Linked DNA regions of Homo sapiens: region 2 is linked to region 1. Evidence: fine-mapped expression QTL. Tissue or cell type: whole blood. Region 1 holds a variant in brackets; the other region holds the start of a gene. All regions are shown on one strand. Distances are from middle to middle.

Region 1 (8,181 bases):
GCTCCTGAGTTCTGTTCTTTCCACCGAAGTTCGTGCCTCCTCCCCCAGCAAGCCTGGAGAGTGAGTGAGCCCTCACCAGGGCACAGACAGAGAAGGTCTGGCACACTCTTTTCAATGGAGCCCCCTATAGCTGTGGAGACTGACGGGGTCCAAGAACAGGACGCTATGACCTTGCTTCTCAGGCGCCCTGAGCTCTGGTGCTGTGGCAGACGTGTGCCTCCTTACCTCTGCCAGCTCCCACTCTCCACCACGGTCACCCTGCCCCACACCCGGGGTCTCCAGGGGCAGGCAGGTTACCACAATGCTTCGGGTGAGTGATGGCCCTGAGGCTGGACTGACCCAGCTCTACCCAAAGGCTGAATCAGGCTCTCCAAGGCTATCAGCCCATGGCTAACCACCCTGCCTTGGTCAAGGACAAGAGTGCAGGTGATTCCAGGTGAACCTTGACGCTGAACCCAGGTGAGCACGAGGCCACTCCACTCTCGGGGAAGGATCTCTCTGCCCAACACAGACTCTGGAAGCCAGTTCAACAAGAGCCACCTGCCTGCTTCCTCTGCTTTGACTTTCAAATGCCAGCCATGCTGCGTGTGGCTCTGGGACCTTGGGGAATGCGCTGACCCTTTGTGACCGTAGTTTCCCAGTCTACGGGCGGTGTAGGCGCCTTGGGAAGTAGCTCCGATCCCCCTCGGCAACCTCAGGGCTCCTCCCCTGCTAGTGATTTCTCCAGCCCCCACTCTCTCCCCATACTTAAGACACAGAACTGGGCCAGCTATGCAGAATTCACCTGCTCCGAGGAAGACTCAGTATAGAAAACCCTCTAAATCCCACACGCCCTGCCAACAGCACAGGGCGCACAGGACGGTGAGCTACAGATGAGGCTCGGGCGAGATGAGGTTGGGTAACCGGAAGCCAGGCGGGAAGGCGCAGCGAGCGGTCCGGGCACGCAGGAGGCCGCCTCCCCGAGGCCCGCCAGGGGGCGCCGTGCACCAGGGCCCAGGAAGTCGCCTCCGCCCGTGGCGCCACCCGCGCTGCCCGGCAGGGGTCAGCCTCGCCCGGCCATCCCCGACCCGGCTGCTGCACCCTTCTGACTCGCTGGGACCGCCCGCTGCGCCGCATCCCCCCCCCCCGCCCCCCCCCCCCCAGAGGCGCCGAGCAGCCGGGAGCTCCGTCCTGCCTGAGGATGCGGGGCCCAGGCTGCATCCCCCCGGCCCTGCTCGCCTGCTCATCACACGGAGGCCGGGGACAGGGTCACGGCCAGGGAGCCTGCGGGGCTAAAGGAGCGGGCCGGGAGCTCAAGAGCTGCCGCCGGGCGGCGAGGAAGGAGCCCCAGGCAGGCCCCGGGCGGCCGAGGCAGGGGAGGAGACGGCTGGCCCTGGTTCCAGGTGAGCAGCCCCGCCCGCTCTGCTGGAGGCCCCGCTTACCACCGGCGGGAGATGCGGGTGCAAGCCCTGGGGCGCACGTGGCCAGGCCACTGCCACGCCCGAGGGACGGGTTTTCGTCGCCACCTCGGCCCTGGTGAACCCTGTGACTGGAGTGCCTCCCAATCCCACCGTGATGCCCACCTCGGGGCGCTGCCAGGTGCCAGGCTAATGCGTGTGATCCACAGTGTGCTGAGAAGTGCTGACTGTCATTGTGAATGTCCGTGGTGGGGTGACGCCCGGGCAGGGTGCACTGGCCTGGTTCCAGAAGACCTGGCCTCTCCAGCTCCCACGGCGCGCCCGTTTGCTGCGTGGCCCATGCTGCTGGCGGCTGCTCCTGGCTGAGTCATTCCAAGACGAGCGTCCAGTCCGCGCTCTCTGCCGCCCTTCCCAGCGCTGCCCGGCAGGCCCCGGGAACTGTGCCCAGCTGTGCCCGCTTAGCTGGTGTATGACCTGCCTTTGAACTTGCTGCAAAGAAAGGTGGGTGAGGGAAAGGCGAGGGCTGGGGTGAGGGACTGGAGAGCAGTCTCCTGTCCCTTCTCCCCCTGAGGTCACTGTCCTCCAGCTGGTGGGCAGAACTCTGTCCCAAAGCCTTCCAAAGGAGAGGCCCACGCTGTAGGACCTTGTCCCCACTATAGGCTGAGGTTGGTAAAGGTCACAGAGGTGGTTCCTGATAAAAATTCCCTAACCAGAGGTCTCCTGATGCAGCGTCCCCCGCCCCCCCCCCCCCCCACACACACACACACATCCACTCTCCATGGTGTGGGTGGAGGTCAGTGAGGAGAAGGGACCTTCCCCGGGCACACACGGGCCAGTTCGTGGGAGGGGCCTGAGACAGGAAGGAGATTGAGTCACCGAGCTGGCCAAGAGGAAAGAGAAGAGAAGAGAAGAGAAGAGAAGAGAAGAGAAGAGAAGAGAAGGAGGGAAGGAAGGAGAAAGAAAGAAAGAAAGAAAGAATGAAAGAAAGAAAGAAAGAAAGAGAAAGAAAGAGAGAGAGGAAGGGAGGAAGGATGGAAGGAAGGAAGGAAGGAGAAAGAGAGAAAGAAAGAGAGAGAGAAACAGAGAGAAAGGGAGAAAGGGAGGAAGGGAGGAGAGAAAAGAAAGAGAAAGAAAGAAAGAAGGAAAGAAAGAGAAAGAAAAGAGAGAGGAAGGAAGGAAGGAAGAAAGAAAGAAAGAAAGAAAGAAAGAAAGAAAGAAAGAAAGAAAGAAAGAAAGTAATCAGCATGTCCAAGGAGAGGAACTAACATTCCCCCTCTCCCTCTGTCTCTCTCTCCCTCTCTCTCCTCTCATACAGCACACACTTAAACACACACACCACACCAGCGGGGCAGTCTCATGTATCTTATCCTTAGGGCAACCTCACTGTGGGCACTGTATTTTGAACCCCTTCTCCCCAACCTTGGTTGCAGTGCCTGGCATCCACTCTAGCAACCACCTCTTTTCCATACCAGCTGAGGTGGCTTTTACGAAGCCAAGCCACCCTATTCCTGGGATGAGACCAGGTTGGCTTTAGCCAATCAGCACATTGCATTGGTTTGGGTGGTTCAGGGATGGGTGAGTGGACCAACCAAGGCCATGAGGCAAGAAGAGATGTTTGGGAGAGTAGGGAGGGGCAGCTTCCCAGCACTTCTGAGAGAGACACTGGAAGATAGGCTCTTTCTTTGTGTTGGTCATGAAAGAAAGAGTATTAGTTCCTGAAGCGAGCTGGTGTCCAGCATTTTTTAATAATGAGGGGACTTTGTTGAGAATGAAGCAGGCATTCCAGAAGCAAACAGGAGAACTGGAAAAAAAAACCCAGACTTGGTTAACATTGTCAAGCTGCTGGATCCAGCCATGCCTGAAGTCCATATTATGAGGGCTTTCCTGCTCAAGGAGCCAATAAATCCCCTCTTTTTAACTGACTTTCTTATTGTCTGCAATTGAAAGTTTCTTACCTGGTGGTATTTTCTTTTTTGATCAAAGAGAAAATGGATATTCAGAAGGTATACGTTTGCCAGATAAAATACAGGATACCCAGTTAAATCTGAATAGTGTTTCAGGTCAACTATACATACCTTTTTAGCAGGTATTATGTCCCACGCAATATTTAGAACACAGTTACACTGCAAAACTAACTGGGCATCCTACACCTTTATTTGCCAAATCTAGCCCATGTCTAAATTCCAAGCACTCGAAAATGGAAAACCTGGACTTTGTCCTAGAGTTTTAGTTCCAAAGCCCCCTGTACACCAGGTCGTGGGATGGGCTGCTTCCTCTCACTCCTCTCTGCCTCTGTACCTGTGGGCTCTTATCAGCCTTGCACTCTGGCCTTTGCAACCCAAATTACTGCTTGCTTTGTTGCAAGGACATGCTGGCACCTTGGGTTTTGGCCCTTGCTGCTCTCTTCAAGCAGTTGAGTGCTCGCCTGCTGCCTCCTTCTGCTTCCAGCTATCCCTGGTCACTCCCCAGAGGCTCAG[T/G]TTGGCCCCGTTCTCTGTGCTGTTCCAGCGCTCCCTTCTGAGAACATTAGCAGCAGGAACTGTCCACAGATCCCCAAGGCATGGGCCAAGATGACATTCCCCCAACACACCCCACTAAGCGCTGTCCCGCAGCCCAGGGTGCACCTTCCTGCAGTGGTGACAGCCCCAATTCCTGCACCCACAAGCCCAGGTGTAGGAAGGATCTAGCCTGCACTGAGCCACTGAGCACTGGCTATGCTTGTTTTATCTTTATAGCAGTGATTGGTTTTTAACTGCTTTTATGCTCTCTGCAATTGAAAGGTGTTTCAGGTCACTATCAATAAATGTGATGCAAGCTCAATAGAACAGAGGAGACAAGGAGGGTGCTAGGAAGAAAATCCTGATGCATGCCCTCCCAGGAGTCACTGCTCCATCTGAATCAATGCTGCCCTCATTTAGATAACATTGTATCCACCGCCTTGGAGCCTGCCTTTGCCTTGGACTGCCAGGACCACTATGTCAATGATGCTGATGGCTGCATAAATATCGCTTGGCTGTTTCATAATTGGGATTTTTCTTTTTGATTCTCCACAACTGTAAATTATGCTGTAATGATGCTAAATTTCCAGAAATGGAATGGAGAAGCCATGCCATGAGCAGCCTGTGTGCCTGGTGAGGGTCTCACATGGGGTGCTCCTGGGCCTTGACTGTCCCTCTGTGGGACTTGCTCTCCCCACTAACAGGACTGCTGTGCCCACCAGACAAAGGCCATAAATGCATCCTGGAAGTCACTGCAAATTTGCAGTGTTGTTTGTACTTATTTCTAAGGCTTTCTGGAAACCCAGCTCCCCTTGAATCCAGGTCAGCTCATGGAAAAAAAATCAAATATAGCATCCGATGTGTGCTGAGGGCTTTGCTCACAAAGCCCCTTCTTTCCACTTCTCAATTCTTTGTTCTGTGAAGTGGTTGTCACTATTGTTCCCATTTTACAGATTTGAGGAACTGATACCCCAAGACCCCGTGACTTTCTCAAGGCCATTCCAAGATCCCTAGATGCACTTACGCTTAATGAACTAATTCTTCACAGCGAGGCTTCTTGCTTAAAATCCAAGAAAATACCAGATAAAGGGCATTCTAAATATATTTCTTTTCTATAGATGTGGATCTCCTGTTACTGGAAAACAGGAATTAGCTTGTCTGCTTGAGGATGTGGTTGGTTCTTTATAAAAAGGATACAGAAGAAATTTGCACAGACTGCCAGCTTCATTATGCTGCCGACAGCTTCCAGCAAAAGGAGGACGTTTGCAGCCAGATATTTCAGTAAGAATTTTTTTATGTTCTATGTGGGAAATGATTACCTTTGCATTTGACTTCTTGCTTGAGGGATGGGGTCCCCGGAGGCTGTCTTGGTCTTGTGGCTGAGAGCACCAGGCGGCATCTGTGGTCAGGGTTCTGACCTCCTTCAGCTCCTGGAAATGGCTGATGGCACAAACCCCACCCCTGAACTATGGCAGCTGCTCTGTGTCTGCCTGAAAAACAGAGACTTCAGGGTCCTGGGCTCTAATGACTCAGGGCTCTGATTGCATTCAGAGTCTGTAAGGACTCCTATGTCCAAGGACCGCTGGGGCAGTAGGCAAGTCCTTCACAGGGGAACGCTGTGTGCAGCTGAAGGCTACTCTGCATCTCTGCTTGGAAAGGATCCAGCCAAGGGGCTAGTAGAGAAATAGTGAGGACATCTCAGTAACCCTCACTAAAGTGTCTGGGAGGTAACTATTAGACCAAATGGGATGGCTGTGACTGTCTGTTTGGGTCCCTCAGTAAAGTGCCTGGGAGATAATTGTTAGACCAAGTGGGATGACTGTTTGTTTGGGTCACAGGCAGGTGCTCGCTGGGTGGGCTGTGCAGGTGAGGATTGGGTGGATTGTGCAGGTGATGGTTGGGTGGGCTGTGTAAGTGATGATTTGGATGGGTTGTACAGGTGCTGATTGGGTGGGTTGTGCAGGTGCTGGCTGGGTAGACTATGCAGGTGATGATTGGGTGGATTGTGCAGGTGCTGACTGGGTGAGCTGTGCAGGTGAGGATTCGGCTTGTTGTGCAGGTGCTGACTGGGTGGATTGTGCAGGTGCTGGCTGGGTGGACTATGCAGGTGATGATTGGATGGGTTGTGCAGGTGCTGGGCTGCATGGGCTGTGTAGGTGATGGTTGGCAGTTGCTAGTCAGGTCATATGCATGACCTGATGGGCTCAGTTATGAGATGATGTTGCCTGAGCCCCTCCAGGACTGGTAAAGATTGGAAATTCTAGAAGCTAGTGGGTGAAATGCAGTCATGGACCTCAACCTCCACATTAAAATCACCCAAGGTGCTTTTAAAAATTCCCAGGCTCCCCCTCCAGAGATGCAGGTTTAATTGGTCTTGGATGAATCCAAGATATCAGCATATTTTTAAAGTCCCAGGTGATGTGATGTAATGTAATATGCTACCAGGTTCAGGATATAGTGGACCAAGCCCAGGGTGGGCTCAGACTCCACAGAGCCCCTTTTCTGTGGTCTGAGTAGATATTCATGGGGTGAGGAGTAAAGCTCTGTGTTCATGAAGAACGGAGTGGGCTAGAAGCCAGGACCCCTGGGCCGGCCTCGTGCTGCAGACACTTCTCACACTGTCAACTTCCCTGGATCTCACTTTCCACAGGAGAAAATAGGGGGTGGGGGAGCAGCTGAGATTAACCTTTAACTGTTCAAGCCTAATACCTAATATCTCCAGGTATTATTTTCCCTGTGCTAGGTTTATTGCATTATCTGGCTTGGAAGGAACAGTCACTTGCTTTTGTAGGAGGTTCCAGCCACCAGATTTCTATGATGAAATAAATTCTTCCCCAGATTCATAGCATAGGTGCAAATCCTTTGAGAAAGGGACAGAGGACATACTGCATGACATACCTGAACTTAATGAATTTGATTGAATTAATGTCTTTATCAAGATGAAATGTATATAACATGAATTTAACCATTTTGAAGTGTAAAAGTCAGTGGCAATTCATACATTCATGATGTTGTGCAACCACCAGCTCCATTTAATTCCAAAATTTTTCCATCACCTTGTACCTATTAAGAGGTTGCTCCCTCTTCTCCACCCCATGCAAACATCAATCTGTGTTCTGCCTCCATGGATTTTCCAACTCTGGATTTGTCATGTAAATGGACTCATGCAATATGTATCCTTTTATGAAGCCTCGTGTCTGGCTTCTTTCACTTAGCATAATTTTTCCAAGTTTCATCCACATTCATTCCTTTTGAGACTGGATTAATTTGTAAATGATTACCTAATCTCAAACACTTTGACAACTCTAAAAATGGACTGGCAATGCCATTTCGTGAAAGGCTGCAGAAAAAAAAAAAAAAAAAAAAAAGAGTCTCCAGCACAGGGGGAGGGGGCTTCCCCTCCCCATCCTTGGTCTCTCGGTTAGCACCTCTGTGTGTTTATCTTTCTTCTCTCCACCTGCCACCTCCTGGTCTCTCTCTCTCTCTCCCTCTCTCTCTCTCTTTCTCTCTCTCTCCCTCCCTCCCTCCCTCCGTCTTTCTCAGCTAATGGAGATTATTGAGAAACTTAAGTTTGCTTTTAACTGTCATTTTCAAGGATTGAGGGCAAATGAAAGGTCCTTATGCGTTCAATTGTACTGCTATGCTTCATTTCTTCACTTTGTCCACAATCTTGCCACATCGAGAACCTACCAGCACTTTCCCTCCAGCAGGAGCTGGTGGTGAGCCTCTTGGCCTCTCACTTGGTGAGTTCTGTGCTAAAAGTCTCACCCAGCAGTGGGCAGCACCCTCAGCTCCATCACTGTGGGCCTCAGCTCCTCCTAGGGAACTCTCCTGCCAGCAGGACTAGCTGCAGCCTCTTTTCTCACCAGCTCCCAAACTTCAGACCACTGGTCTGCCTGGTTGTCTCCCAAGACTGCTGGCTTCTCCCTGTCTGACCCTCCTGGCACTCCCCATGCCAAGAAGCCACTGTGCCTCGGGATCACAGTGGAGAGAAAGACGGTGGCCTCTGCCCATACCCAGCCAGAGTGTCCAAAGAGAAGGAGAAGGCATCTCTGAATCCAACCACTCCTTCAAGTCCCCAAATCCCTGACCTGCACGCTGGGACCAAGGCTGGGAGCAGCCTGGGGTAGGGAGGCTCCTTCGAAACCCTCTCCCACGCCTCCCTGACTCTGTGGTTGTCCTCACCTTGGCCTTTCCCAGAGCAGACTCTCTCCCCCACTGCTGGCAGAGATGTAAGGGGATTGTGAGAACCCAGGTAGGGGGGCATGACTGTGTCCTGAGAGAATAGG
Region 2 (8,181 bases), 48 kb after region 1:
GAAACAATAGATGTCAATTACCTGAAGAATAATAAAATGTAGTAAAATGATTTGGAAATTATGAGTTTTTAGTGCTTGTTACCTTTGTCTTAAATAGTTTATTTAATTATAAGTTTATATACATTAATTTCTAATGATGTTCTTGCTAAACAACTGGCTTACAAAACTCCTGAAAATTTAACAATCAGTTATGTCATTGGTACTCTCCAGCTGGTCCGGCCCACTACTGGGATAGACAGAAGGAGAAACCAAAGTATGAGGGTGGGAGCTGCCCATGAAGACCTTGAGTGACATGCAAGGGAGCTGCGGCATCGACCTCCTGGCAGCAGGAACAGAGAGTGCACTAAGCAGGCAGGCTGGGGACCCAGGTGCTGGTGACCCCTGGGCAGGCATCACAAAGCCAGAGTAGCATTGTTTCTCTCCTCTGCCTCCAGAAGGGCTTACTCTGGTCCTCCATGCAGCTTCTGGAACAGGGGAAGCAGGGCTTTGCTATCTATATGTCGCCTTTGTGCAAATTAGAGGAAAGCTCCCTCCTCTAGCTGCACACCTCCCCACCTCCCTGTGCTGGAACACAGGGCTTTGCCAATGGAGCCCAAATTCAGCCTCCTTACCTCCCTCTACTGGACACCTTTGAGCAGTGCACAGACCATCCAACAGCACCTGTGGCTCTGGGTGGAGTTGTCTCAAGTTGGGGCTTGGGACAGATGCCCTTTCCACTTTCTGACCAGGAGATTTATTCGCAGATGTGCCTCTCCCTGAGAAGAATCTCCCTTAGGATGGCAGCCAGCAAACACCCCATGTGCAGTTGTCTTCTAAAGCTGTGGTTCTCAACCCTGGCTGAATCCCTAGAGGAGCTTTTACAACTCCCAATGACAATAAACACTGCAGACTAGTTAAATCAGAGCCACTGGGGGTGGGACACAGGAATTCACTGTCAGAGCTCCCTAATGTGCAGCCAAGGTTAGGAACTACTGTTTTGAAGGTATCCTGGCTCTGGGCCAGTTGATGCTGATTGGCAGCCATCCCACCAACAGGTGTGCATTTCAATAGATGCCTTCTGCCTTCCGGAGACTTCTGTCCATTCAGTGCTCAGCTTCTGTCCCTGAACAGCCCTTAGAAAATACTGAATGATTCAAGGCAGGAAGCCAGGTGAAGGCAGACCTAGGACCACTGCTGGAAAGGGGCAGCACCGTGCAGGCAGGCACAGGGCAGTGGAGAAGGAGGCATCTGTCTCCGCTGCTAAGCTAGACCTGTATCTCCCACTCCTTGGTCTGGGTGTCCCACTTATAAGTGAGAAGAGTAGGGCTGGTTCTTCAAATAAAAGCTTATAGGAGGTCACATGTTCAACAGATCCCCTTGCCCTGCCCTTGTCCCCACTCCATCCTCCCACAGGCCACCCCAGAGGAAGTGGGAGGCTCCCAGGGCCCTGCAGATCAGGGCTGGTAAACTTCAGGATGAAGGGGCTCCAATTCCTGCCTCTGTGGACCCTTCATCTCAGGAAGTACTGAGAGCACAGTCTGAGGTTGGAGAGGAGAAAAGAGCTACTTTGCCCACCTGCCCCATTCCCCCAGCCTTCTCAGACGCAGAACGTAGATCAACTCCTGCCCTTTTCCCAGCCTGACTTCTGGGGTGTGAGCCCAGCTCTGATCCCCAGAAAAGCAGGCGAGTGAACACAGTGACTTAATATCATCAGGGAAAACAGCTGCACAGGAAAAGCGCCTGGGGGTGGTTTCTTAACCAAAACAAGCGTGAGTGGACCCAGACTAAGTCTCAGGGCATTTCCTTGCCTCTGACTTGGATGAAGTGGTCCAGGCTGCATTACTCACAAATGGCTTCCTGATTGCTCAAGACATTGTCACAAGCCACAGGACTTGCCCTGTGACCCTGGTGTCGACATGAGATTTTCTAGCTTGATATTCTCCCCACTCCTCATGGGTGGCCCCTGTCCCAACCAGGGCTTGTACCTGGCCTTAAAGGAAAAGGAGGTCAGTTCTGTCATTCAGTGGTGTTTCTTGGATCTGCCCATGAAGCCAGAGTTTCCTGTGAGGCTTCTGGCCTGAGTCAGCCTGGGGCTCAGGGAGGGCGTACAAGAGGGGCAGTACAGGGACATAGATAAGGGCCCAGGGGAAGTGCTTAGTGGCTCATTCTGCTGGTGGAATCAGGAGAATTTCATTGGGGAATTGCCCAAAGAGGACAAGGCAATGTGAGGAAGGGCATTCCAGAGAGAGGGAACTGCACGTGCAAAGACACAGCTACATGTGCAAAAACACAGAGGCACAGGAGAGCAGGGGCTGCACATGCAAGAACAGGAACACACAGGAGCAAGGCATGTGCAAAGTCACTGGGGCACACAGGAGCAGGCGCTGTATGTGCATATGGTTGTATAGAGCATCGGCAAGAGATAGGTCAGAGAGGAGTCCATGGATGCTACCATGAAAGAACCTGGAATGTTATGCCAAGGTACTCATTCATCCCTCTGAGGAGTAGCTGAAGACCAGAACAAGTGACTTGATGCTGAGTAAGACAGCTTTGTGTCCATGGACTCTACCTTCTCCCACCAGCTTGGCCATGTGGCTCACCACATCCTGGTGAGTCTTTCTTCTTACTCTGCAGTCCTCCCCTCTCCATAGGGCACACTGTTCCCTAGGGAGGACTGCCACAGTGATCTCCTGGTGGGCTCTCTCCCTCTACAGCTGCTAAAGTTGATTACATACCAATAGGACACTTGGGGATCTGTGGACATGGGGCACTCGAGGGAGTGTGGAGGGTCAGATGGAGGCTATGGCCATCTGAGCAGGGGAGGGCATTGTTCAAATCCCTCTTTACCAGCTACTGAAAGGGTCACACAGTTCTCAGGCCCAAATAGCCAGACCCAAGCTCAGATGCCTAAGAGGATACACGGAGTGATTATCAGGGGCACAGAGGCAGGTCACCGTTCAGCAAGTTCATCGGGGGCTCAAGCCAGGAGCTGTTACCATGCAGTGATGGGAATAGGGTGGAGAGGCTGGCATCACAGAGCAGCAGGAGCTGTAGACACAGCCCTGGGTTCTGGTGCCCGCCCTGCTGCTCGGTACTGTATGACTTTGGGCAGGTGATTCAACCTTGCTGTGCCTTATTTTCCAGATTTGAAACGCTATATATATAGCACCTGCTTCAGGAGTTTGAGAGTTAAATGAGATATTGAATGTAAAGCACCAGCCTCAGTGCCTGACACATAGTAGGTGCCTAATAAATGATAGCTATTGTTATGATTGCATTCCTTGGGTAATTTTTAGCATCTTGAGGCTGGATTCCGCTCCTCACAAAGCCCCAGTATACACCCTTTAAAATTATGCCAGCATCAAACAGAAACATGGCAATTAGCAGAGATTCACTATTCAATTCAGATCTTCCTATGAAGAGCCCTGAGTTAAGTGCTTCCTGCCCTCTTATTCCTGTCACCTTACTAAAGAGGCATAAATAGTATCCCTAACAGGCATCTTCCTGTTGGGAGTCTCCTGAGGAGTTTACATTGCCGGGCTGCTTGCTCCTTCCCAGACACACCTGACTTTCAACACGTAAAACAGTGAGCTCATAAGCGGGTCCCCGTGGATTGGGCTCTGGGGTGGGGGGGGGGTCTCGGCTACCTTCTCACCAAAGCGCTATCCCACCCGGGCTTGGCAGGGAGTGCGGCTCCCAGGCGGCGGCTGAAAGGCGCATTTCTTCCAGCCTCAGCAAAGGATGGCCGGAACCCCAGTACCCTCTCCCGGGCCAGGACCGCGCCCCGCGTCTCTGGCTGGCCCCGCCCCTCTCGGCCCCGCCCCGCCCCCGCGCTCAGCTTGGACAGCCACGCGTGCGCCCAGGCCAGGCGGAGGGACTGCCCCGCCCTGGTCCAGTGATTGATCAGCAGTGATTACTGAGGCTTTAATGGTCCGCTTGGATGGGAATTAATTCTGGGATGGATAAATAATGCATCGAGGTTTATGTAGTCCAAGGCGAGCCGTCCGTCCGGAGCCAGGAGAGGTAGCCGAGGGAGCCTGACGGGTGACGCCAGCGGCCACGGGGCCCCGAACGAGCAGGACATGAGGGGCGACTAGGCGCGAGGACGAGCAAAAGCAAGTGGATGACAGCATGAACGGCCCTGCGGGGCTGGCCGGACGGCTGCAAGAACATGCTGAGCCCAAAGATCAGGCAGGCCAGGAGGGGTAAGTCCAACTTTCTGGGGTTTCTCTGGGCACCGCATGTGCCTCTTGGCAAACGTGCGCGGACACTTGGCCAGCCGTCACGCCATGTGTCACATGGGGCGGGCGTTCTGGGACCATTGCCGCTGAATAGTGAGCATCCTCCTGAGGAAGTGCCCTTCCTCGTGAAACTCCTGGGCTGGGTGGGGACACGACCTGAAGTTGCAAAAGGGCGGTGGCCGGCTTAGTGCCCCAGTGGGTGTGCACACTTCGCCCCACATTCCACATTTTACAGAGGCCCTCGGTCGCTCCAGGTGACCTGGTGGCAACTTTAAGGAAACTTTGCTTCTTTACTAAAAAGGAAATGCCCAAGATTTGCCCTGTGGCCAACACAGAAGCACCCCTTACCAGGGAAGGCCATGCCCTGGCTTCTAGAGACAGCTGGGTGCAAGCGAGGGTCTTCGTTCCCGCTGCTTTGCAGACAGTATTTCCTCAAGCAGGCCAGGGGCAGGCAGGCTTTCCTGCCAGAACACTCAGAAAGCTGCAGGGTCTGGGGGCAGGACGGGTGGATGCGGGAGCAGACTCAGACCAGCAAGAGATGGGGGTCAGGAGAGTCCAGGACTGGGCTAGCCAGCCTGTGTCCAGCCAGCGACCCAGCACAGTGACCTGAAGACTTGGCCACTGTATGGGGCTAGAGACAGCATCTCCATGGACAACAACTTCTTAGCCACGGAAAGTGTCATTTTGAATGAGAACATCTGTCTTTTACAAAAATAGAATGTGTCTTTTCAGGTGGCCAGTATCTGGGAGGGCTGAGCTCCTTTTGTAAACAATGAAGTGGAGGATGGGTCTTTGGAGGTGGATGGAGCATTTGCCTGGGAGCTTGGAAACAGTTTGTGTCTCACCAGGTGTTTGCAGCGGGGGGCCTCCAGCCTCCTGTGGATTCACAGGGAACACACCCATCTTATTAGCACACTGCAAGCACTTGGATGATTTTCCTGGATGGGACCAGCCTTCCAGTGTGTTCCACAGACGTCAGGACCCCTCTGTGGGGTGCTTTCGCATGGGCTGAACCCTGTGTACCCCAATGGGCAAAGGAGGAACTTGCATGGCTCTGCTGAGGAGGGGGCAAGTCTAGTGATGACCCAAGGGATAGGACAAGCCAGATACCTCTGCGAGAGCTTAGTTCCACCCTCCCACTCCTGTGTAATGAGCTGGCCACTGGCCACATGTGGCTACTAAGCACTTGGCATGTCACTAGTCCAAATTGAGAAAAAGACACACCAAATTTTGATGATTTAGTACAAAAAAAGAATGTACAATATCTCATTAATAATTATTTTACTGAAATGACAGTATTTTGGATATATTGGGTTAAATAAAATCTATTATTAAAACTAATTTTACCTGTTTTACATTCTTTTACTATAGCTACTAGAACATTTACAAGTACATATGTGACTCATATTATATTTTTTATATTTCTATTGGACAGTGCTAGTAAGAGACCAGTGCTTCAGCAAAGGGGCTTACAGGCAGCCTGTCTTTGAAATCCAGGATTTCTCATAAATGTTTGTTTTAAGTCAATGGTTCTCAACCAGGAGCAATTTGCCCCACTAGAGAACATTTGGCATTGTTTGGAGTATTTTTGGTTATTCCAACTGAGGGGTGCTACTGGCATCTAGTGCGTATAGGCCAGCCATACAGCCCTCTTCCAGTCCTCAGTGTTCCATGAGGCTTCCACCATAGGGCTTTTGCACATCGTTCTTTCCCCTGAAATGCCTCCCACATTCACATGTGCGCACATGCATGCCTGTATGTGTGTGCACATGCGTTCATGCATACAAACATACACACACACCTTAATTCCTATTCACCCTCCAGTTATAGTATAGTTCAAGTGTTGCCAGCCAGGGAAGTCTTCCCACACACCCCAGTCCAGGCTGGATCCTCTGCTCCATCTCTCCTTTTCTTTATGGTATTTACCATAGGTTGCAGTTGTATACTCCTGAGTGTGACTGATTGGTGAATATCTGTCACTTGCATTGCTCCATGAGCTTCGTGAAAGCAGGAACCATTTCTGTTCGGGGACATCATTATACCCCCAATGCCAGGTACCTGGTGGACACTCAACCTGTGTTTTTTGAGTGAGTGGATGAATAGCTGGATAGAGGAGAAAGCATTTGCCTGGGTGGCTGGAGCACTGTCTCTACCCAAGCTGGCCCGGTACTTAGGAAATTTGGCCTCATCTTTCACTGACTCATATGTTGCAAATATTTTCCCAATTTGTTGCTTGCCCTTTATTTTTATATTAGAGTGGGTTTTTTTTCTAGATGTACCTGTTTTTAACTCGTATATATTTTCCTTTTAGAATTTCTGTCTTTGTTTGCAATATTTCAAAATAAAATTGTTGATGCTATTAAGGAGGCTCCTTCTTTTAAAGGAAATCATCAGACTGATGGGCCAAGTTATAGGAGCTTTAACCATCTCCTGTAGCAGGAGTGTCAATGTCTCAGGAGCCTTGATGAATGTTCAGAGCCTGGTCAATACTTTGGGGGTGGGGAGAGAAAGCTCTATTAATATGATGAAGTACCTTCAATGGCCTTATTCTTGTGATTGTCCCACAAGAAAGTAAACCAACATTTATTGTGCACCCATGCTCCAGGCACTTTTGTTGTACCTCATTTAATTCTCATGACTACACTATAATGTGATATCATTGTTACCATTTTGACAGATGTAGAAGAATCATGGTCGCCCAGCCAATAAATGTGGGATCTAAATTTGTCTGTCCAATGCTAAGGCCTCTGCCTTCTCTCTAACCCAACACTATCTGAAGACCTCTGCACCTGGCCCTGTACATCTCCATGAGAGCTGTAGATTATTTCAGTGATAAAATGCAATGATATTTTTAAGAAGGTGCATCTAAACACATGGAGATTAGATCTAGACAACTCATAGAATGTTTGAGGTTGGATTATTGATACCTAGCAGAAAACTAAGCAAATAAAAAACAAGGCAATTATGAACTCCACAGAAAACAAAAGTGATTCATGAAAGAAAAATTATTATCATATATAACATACCTCAAGTGGGACTAGCAATTAAACGGTGCTAATAATGGAAATTCTGTTGTTAATCTAACCAAAATTTTAATATAACTAATTGGGAGGGTGGAGTGGGTGCTTATGGATGGTGGGGGGAAAGGGTGTAAAAGAAACAAAATCTTCATCTTCTATAGTAAGAAGTTAATAAATAACACTTAAAAGGAAAAAATCAAGAAGTGGTAATAAATAAATACTATCTGGAAACATAGAAGTAATACCAAAAGAACCAATGACAAATGTTGAAAGTGGCTGCCTCTGTGGGGTGGGGAATGGAAGTAAAGGGATAGGACACTCCTGGGTTTTGCCCCAAGGCTGCAGGACTACTTGAAAAGTGGTTAGGGAATCACAGCCCAGAGGTCAACTGACCTCATACCTGCTCAGACTGGGGGATCCTTCAGAGCCCTGGAAGATTCTGCCCTTCAGGGACACTCATAGGGTTAGCAGGCCTCCTGGGATTGCTTAGTTATGAATGTTGTGGCTCCCAGGATGTGCCCTTGGCGATGCTGTGATGCCCCTGCCCAGGTTTGTCAGGTACCATGATGGCTCCCTATGACTCTCACCACCTTCATGGCTCTGAGAGTGAAGCAGCTAAGGAACAGTCACCTAATTAGGTGACACAGCATCTGGCTTTGCCTGATTCAGAGAGAGGACAGAGGTCTAGCAGAATGGTCAGTAAGATATGCTGAAGAAGGGGCGTATTAGAACTGCTCATGGAAGGGTGCATCCAGGCTGTGGGCTGGAGCTTAGCCAGGGACTAGAGGCCTCAGAAGAGCCTGCTCTGGAGAAGGAGGACCAAAGGGAATCACCCAGCAGTCTCTACTTCCAGGCCAGGCCCTGGCACCACTGTTTGTAGCTGATAACCTTCCGTGACAGCAGAGGTGCCCAAGCCTGGACATCCTCTGCCACTAGCCAGG

Evidence for each region. PIP is the estimated chance that this variant, and not a neighbour inherited with it, causes the effect.
Region 2: it holds the start of ARHGAP22, and the variant in region 1 is fine-mapped to the expression of ARHGAP22 in whole blood (TOPMed, PIP above 0.99). The same link has a PIP of 0.9 or more in blood mononuclear cells and monocytes.

Annotation. Positions count from the first base shown.
Region 1 is chr10:48,649,226-48,657,406 of GRCh38, reverse strand. It overlaps a transcript of ARHGAP22 not described here. Among named protein-coding and RNA genes, the nearest start is that of WDFY4, 32 kb to the left of the region's middle. RefSeq lists an enhancer at 532-601 and a silencer at 852-1,441. The variant T/G (reference allele first, on the strand shown) is at 3,875.
Region 2 is chr10:48,600,766-48,608,946 of GRCh38, reverse strand. ARHGAP22 (Rho GTPase activating protein 22) reads left to right here and starts at 3,874. Exons shown (of 10, transcript NM_021226.4): 1 at 3,874-4,184. The coding sequence starts at 4,151. RefSeq lists enhancers at 697-756, 3,723-4,453 and a silencer at 3,707-3,866.